Linked DNA regions of Homo sapiens. The protein of the gene in region 1 purifies or fractionates together with the protein of each later gene. This does not show direct contact. Each region holds a gene or a part of one and is shown in the gene's direction. Other genes may lie near its edges.

What was found.
Region 2: the proteins of CCDC40 (region 1) and UNC13B purify together in Homo sapiens (affinity purification with mass spectrometry; 2 studies listed by BioGRID and IntAct, with this or other methods). This does not show direct contact.

Annotation. Positions count from the first base shown.
Region 1 is NC_000017.11:80,098,321-80,101,209, forward strand, and holds the end of CCDC40 (coiled-coil domain-containing protein 40), read left to right. Parts: intron 1-507; exon of another isoform or gene 508-557; intron 558-1,206; coding exon 1,207-1,455; 3' UTR 1,456-2,293; downstream 2,294-2,889. UniProt on the Homo sapiens protein: Required for assembly of dynein regulatory complex (DRC) and inner dynein arm (IDA) complexes, which are responsible for ciliary beat regulation, thereby playing a central role in motility in cilia and flagella.
Region 2 is NC_000009.12:35,308,356-35,312,008, forward strand, and holds part of UNC13B (protein unc-13 homolog B), read left to right. Parts: coding exon 1-57; intron 58-2,111; coding exon 2,112-2,426; intron 2,427-3,653. UniProt on the Homo sapiens protein: Plays a role in vesicle maturation during exocytosis as a target of the diacylglycerol second messenger pathway.

The DNA of each region.
Region 1 (2,889 bases):
ACACAGAGGAGGGCGTTGGGTCTGAGAGGTGACTTGGGCTTTAGCGGGCTCCCGCGCGCTCTAAGATTGCATGTGGATGAAGCATGGATGCGGGGGGCACCTGGGGCTATTTGCAGTGCTTCAGGGCGGCCCCTGTGGGGCTGGCGAGAAGCCATCAGGCTCTGCATATGCGTTATGCCAACATCGCCCGATGGGATTCCTGCTGGGTTGGCTGTGGTGTGAGCAGAGACGGAGGTGGAGAATGGCTCCAAGGTTCTGGCCTGGCCAACTGAGATGATGAGGGGAACGTGCCTGGCACTGGGCCTGACACACGGCAGGTGTCAAGAAGGTTGCCTAAGCCGGGCACGGTGGCTCATGCCTGTAATCCCAGCACTTTGGGAGGCCGCAGCAGGTGGATCACTTGAGGTCAGGAGTTCGAGACCAGCCTGGCCAACATGGCGAAACCCCATCTCAACTAAAAATACAAATATTAGCCAGGCATGGTGGCGGGCGCCTGTAATCTCAGCTACCCGGGCGTGGTGGTGGGGGTGGGTGCCTGTAATTCCAGCTAGTTGGGAGGCTGAGGCAGGTGAATCGCTTGAAGCCGGGAGCCAGAGGTTGCAGTGTGCCAAGATTGTGCCATTGCACTCCAGCCTAGGTAACAGAGCGAGACAGCCTCAAAAAAAAAAAAAAAAAATGCCGGCGGGTCACAGTGGCTCACACCTGTAATCCCAGCACTTTGGGAAGCCGAGGCAGGCGGATCACGAGGTCAGGAGATCGAGACCATCCTGGCTAACACGGTGAAACCCTGTCTCTACTAAAAAAAAAAAAAATACAAAAAATTAGCCGGGCCTGGTGACGGGCATCTGTAGTCCCAGCTACTCAGGAGGCTGAGACAGGATAATGGCGTGAACCCGGGAGGCGGAGCTTGCAGTGAGCCGAGATCGCACCGCTGCACTCCAGCCTGGGCGACAGAGCAAGACTCCATCTCAAAAAAAAAAAAGAATGCCTCCTAGATGGTGATGATGGGTGACCCATAAAGCACCGACCCAGTGCCTCTCAGCCTCTTCCCTGAGATCCAGGGGCGCAACACCTTCACGCCGTCCCTTTTCAGGCGTAGGTCTCGCCTCCTCTTCGGCATTTCCTGGAATCTGAGTTTGTGGGGGGCCAGCAGGTGTCTTTCTTCTGGTTTGCATAGCCCTATATGGAGTCTCTTTTCCTACCCAGAACCTTTCAGAGATCGTGGCCCTGCAGACACGCCTTAAGCACCTGCAGGCTGTGAAGGAGGGGCGCTACGTGTTCCTGTTCCGCTCCAAGCAGTCCCTAGTGCTGGAGCGCCAGCGCCTGGACAAGCGACTGGCTCTCATCGCCACCATCCTGGACCGCGTGCGGGACGAGTACCCCCAGTTCCAGGAGGCCCTGCACAAGGTCAGCCAGATGATCGCCAACAAGCTCGAGTCACCAGGGCCCTCCTAGGGAGCAGCCTGGACTCCGCCTTGCAAGGCCTCCAGGAAGAGATCCGGAATTGTGTTTGTCATGAGGGACTTGGAATCTTTTGTGTTCCTAAAAACCACATGTACCCTCAGAAGGGCATCGTTTAAGAGAAATAAGCCAGCCCCACCCATAGGAATCTTTTTAGCCACTCAGCAATTTAATAAACCAGGTAAAATCCTAGCGTTTCCCATGGCATCCCATCGCAAAGACAGAGCCTGTGACTGCAGACCCACACACCCACACTCCCACACTGGGCTTACTCGTCCAGGTAACACTTTGGTTTGCAGCACTCCCAAATCTGCACGTGCCTCTCACAACACAACGCTGCCACAGGTCCACAAGCTGGTGGGCTGAGCAGAGGTGGGAAAGTTAAGGCAGCTCCAGCCAGCCTGGCCCGGGAGGCTGGTCCCCCCAGCACTTCCCTCTACTAGGTGCATCTGAAAACCCACAAACCACCTTCTTTACCAGTTTTCCCATCCCCACCCCTTAGAACTCTCAGGTCCCTTTTCCTGCCCCCATGTCCCCATTTGAGTTAAATTCAGATCCACAGCTTGCAGGAGAAAGTCAGTGGCCCCAGACACACGTAACAGGGTGAGCACTGAAATAAGAGCACGCTGGGGCGTCCACACCAAGGGACTACGCCCCAGTCTGCCCACCTATCTTTTCTCCATCATTAACCCAGCGCTCTTTCTCCCTGGACTTCCAAGTACCAATGACCTTGGGGCTTCTTTGCAGTTTAAAGGGAAAATGCTCTACAAAATAATTTCACTTTCAAACATTTCAGCAGAAGAATAAAATCTTTTTTCTGAATATCTAGTAAGCCTTTCTGAGTCAGCCTTACTTATTTTAAAACATTGTAGAAATACAGAAACCACAACAGAGGTGGAAGGGAGGCTTTTGTTTTTTTTTTTTTGAGACGGAGTCTCGCTCTGTCGCCCAGGCTGGAGTGCAGTGGCGCGGTCTCGGCTCGCTGCAAGCTGGAAAGGGGGCTTTTAATGCCCCTATGCCCCTACCCAGGAACAACACCTCTGTGTTTTGGTGTGGCTCCTTTTGTATTTTTCTGCACATACATTTTATTAGGCAAGTTAAGGTTATACTGTGTGTTTTTTGTATCTCACATGTAAAAATGTGCTCCTCTTAATGTAAGCATTTTCTCATTTTATGAAAAAATTCCCCCTGTGTCAGTTTAATGTTTTCTCAATTGTCAGTTTTATGGGTTATCACAATGTTTTGATTATTCCTTTCTGGAATAACTGTGAGTTATGGAGCACACTTAAGGACTTTCCAAATGTTGGCTGTTTCTAACTTGGCGCTGAGCGCCTTTGGCCGCCTTTCCGATGATGCCCTCGGGACGCGTTGGCAGGAGGAATCCCTGGGCGCAAGGCGCGGCTGGGCCAGCCCCTTACAAAGCCCTAC
Region 2 (3,653 bases), on another chromosome or scaffold:
GAATGTACAGCAGCCAGTCACTCTGAATGACATCAAGGAGCCCATGACCAACAAAAGGCCTGTTCTTAACTCAAGCATCATAAATGGCTTTAAGGAATTGACCATTTATGATGCAAGTGACTTAGTGGTAGATTAATCATAGCTTGCTTTTTATCCTTCTTGTGTCTTTCCTAGTACCCGAGCTTCATGTTAATTAGGGGTTAAATAACAAGAACTCAGTGTGTGGGTATTTTCATCCTCCCCTTCTCTCTCTGCCAAATGTAATTCATTTACTGGAACAAGGAGCTTCCTGCTTAAAGCAAAAGCTGGGCCCCCGATATTTACTCACTCTGGTTTGCTCTGCCTTGTATAATGTGAAATGGAGAAAGGAGGGCAGGAAGAGGTAGTAAGTAGTTGGTGGTATATATTAACTACAACTACATGATAGGCTAGGATGCTTCCTTGGGCCTTAGGCACTTATATCTTGTAGGAGATGGGGATAGATCTATTTTGCTTTGTTTTTTCAAGTCTTCTAAGATGCTTTCTCCAGTGGCAATGAGTGTATTAAGCAAAATACAAAGTGCAAAGGATGCCTTGGGATAGTCTGTATTCCCATATCCTATTCCATACAGATTTGCATAGTTTCTTCCATGGTATCATCTCTGCCTTTTACTACCCTCAAGGCTGATGTCTGATAAATGCTTTGAGTAAAATCTCACAGGAACTCAGAGCTGTCCTTTGCTGTAGTTCTTCAGTCTCGAGCAGTGTACAGGATCTATCTGCAGAGGGTACTGTTATTTCCCCTAAGAAGCAGTACCATACAGTACAGATTAAGAATGCTACCTTGACCTCTGGCCCAAACTTGTTCAAAGGGGTTGGTCAGGGTCAGTGTGTGTGTGTGTGTGTGTGTGTGTGTGTGTGTGTGTGTGTATACTTATGTACAAGTATATGTGTTTGTGTGTTGAACTACTCAGAACAGTGACCTGGTACCTATTCTGCTGGCATGGGCTAGAGGATCAGAAATCAGCCTGAAAATACCAGGTAATTAGGAGGAACTTTAGGGAAAATCCCATTGGAAAATAACAGTGATTTCTCTTCTTTGACCAAGGGTAAACACAAGCCCTTTAGTTAAAGGCTTGACTCTGTGGTAAGAAAATTCTTCAAAAGAACTGAAGCCCTTAGATGACAGGGCCATAAAACTCAAGGAAGTAACTTCTAGATACTGCTCTTCTTTCCACCACTCTGCCCTTCTTGCCACTGTCACATTCTCTGCTATAACTGCTTTCTCTCATGACTTTCTGGATATGGGAATACAGGTGATTGAGAAAAGATTGGCTTGCTGGTCTTCAGATATAGAGATGCATGAATACGGCTCTGACCCAGATCCTGGAGTTGGACTTTGTCCACTCTTTCCAAAACTGAGCCTTGCCCTGAAAGAAGCTCAGTTACAGATGTTCATCTTTGGGACGCTTCCTATGCTGCCAGGGATATCATTGTAGCATTTATGTTGATGAGACCATTCGTTTGTGTATTCTCTTGGTCCTGGCCTCTATCTTCCAATGGGTTCTATTAACTCATCTTGCAGATGAGGAAACTGAGATGATAACTGAAAGAACATGTCTGCTCTCCTTTGCTCATCCTAAGGTACAGGCGTACACATTTACAATTGTAGAGGAAGAAATGATGACCTCAATGTAATAAGTAATAGAAAAAGAGTGGAGTTCATTCATTCCATTTTACTGTGTGGAAATTAAAGAAAGATTAATCACAGCCACTGGACAAGCTTCTTTAGAAGACTGAATAAAGAATTTTAGGAATAAGTAACAGGCCATTTTAATAATTTTTAATCCTACTCACAAATAGCCTATTAAGATAAAATATACTTCAAAGTCAAGTGCAGAACTGAGGTTAAGTGTCGTTGGAGAACCCAGCATGTTGTGTTGTTTTCCTGTTGTGTTTTCGCTGAATAGAGACTAATTCTTCTAGATTATGAAGTTTGGTCCTCTCTTCCCAGGAACCTCCTATTTGATTCTTGCTACTAATGTAGTCATTATTTCCTGGATGTCTCCTTTCTTTTGTCCTGGTCCCTGATTGCATTTATTTACTTATCTGTCTTTCTGTCATTCTCACAGCCCCACCAGCAGCAGTAGGTATGGCTCCTCCTGTAATGTGAGTCAAGGAAGCTCTCAGCTAAGTGAACTAGACCAGTATCACGAACAAGATGACGACCATCGGGAGACGGACTCGATTCATTCTTGCCACAGCTCTCACAGCCTGTCCAGAGATGGCCAAGCAGGTTTTGGAGAACAAGAGAAACCCTTGGAGGTGACAGGTCAAGCAGAGAAGGAGGCAGCATGTGAACCCAAGGAGATGAAAGAAGATGCCACAACCCACCCTCCCCCAGATCTGGTGCTGCAAAAAGACCACTTCCTAGGTCCCCAGGAGAGGTAGGCAACAGCTGCCTTGAGGAGCTCACATGGCTTCCTCAGTACCTGCCCTGTGGTATTGCTGAAAATAAGTGATTGTCATTTGTTTCCCTGCAGCTGGGTATGGTGGTAGTTAACACCTCCAGGCTCAACTCTGTATTGCTTCCTTTGATTTATGGTGCACTTTCCAAGACATTTTGGAGATCTCTGAAGAATATTTGGGTTTTTGTTTGTTTGCTTTTGAGATAGGGTCTCACTCTGTTGTCCAGGCTGGCACGATCTTGGCTCACTGCAGCCTCAACAGCCTGGTCTCAAGCAATTCTCCCACCTCAGCTTCCTGAGTAGCTGGGACTACTAGGTGTGCACCACCACACCTGGCTAATTGTATGTTTATAGAGACAAGGTTTCACCATGTTGCCCAGGCTGGTCTTGAACTCCTGAGCTCAAGCAATCCACCTGCCTCAGACTCCCAAAGTGCTGGGATTACAGCGGTGTGCCACTGCACCCAGCCAGCACTTGGGTTCTTTGTAGTTAGTGAGCTGCAGTGTACCAGGGCTTCTTGAGTCTGCAGTTCATAGCTTACTAGTTGACCTTGTATATGGCAGCCTCTGAGTCAGGAACTGACTTGAGCCAGGTTATTTCATCCACTGGGGCTGTGGTAGGTACTTTGGCTGACTTCCTAACCTATTAAGAATGCTACTTTGACCTCTGGCCCAAACTTGTTCAAAGGGGTTGGTCAGGGTCAGTGTGTGTGCATGTACTTATGTACAGGTATATGTGTATGTGTGTTGAAGTACTCAGAACAGTGACCTGGTACCTATTCTGCTGGTATGGGCTAGAGGATCAGAAATCAGCCTGAAAATACCAGGCAATTAGGAGGAACTTAGGGAAAATCCCATTGGAAAATAACAGTGATTTCTGTTGTAACTTTTTTGGTGAACATTTTGTTTTGTTTTTCCCTGGCTGAGAAACCCAGGACAGAGTTAAGAAAGAATTGATCTAGAAGTCAGATTTAACCCACCCCTCAGCCTCCTCAGGGCCTAGCAATGTGTCTGCCAATTGGTATCCATAGGAAGAAAAATTTAAAATGTATCCTCTTTAACATCTCATAATGAAGCTGAGTACAGAGTCTGAATGTTATTACTGAGCTAAATCGGTTAGACTAGCTGATAGGTTGGAGCAGAGCCAGAGTTCTCAGTCTCGGCACTCGTGACATTTTGGGCCAGATTATTCTTTGTTGTGTATATT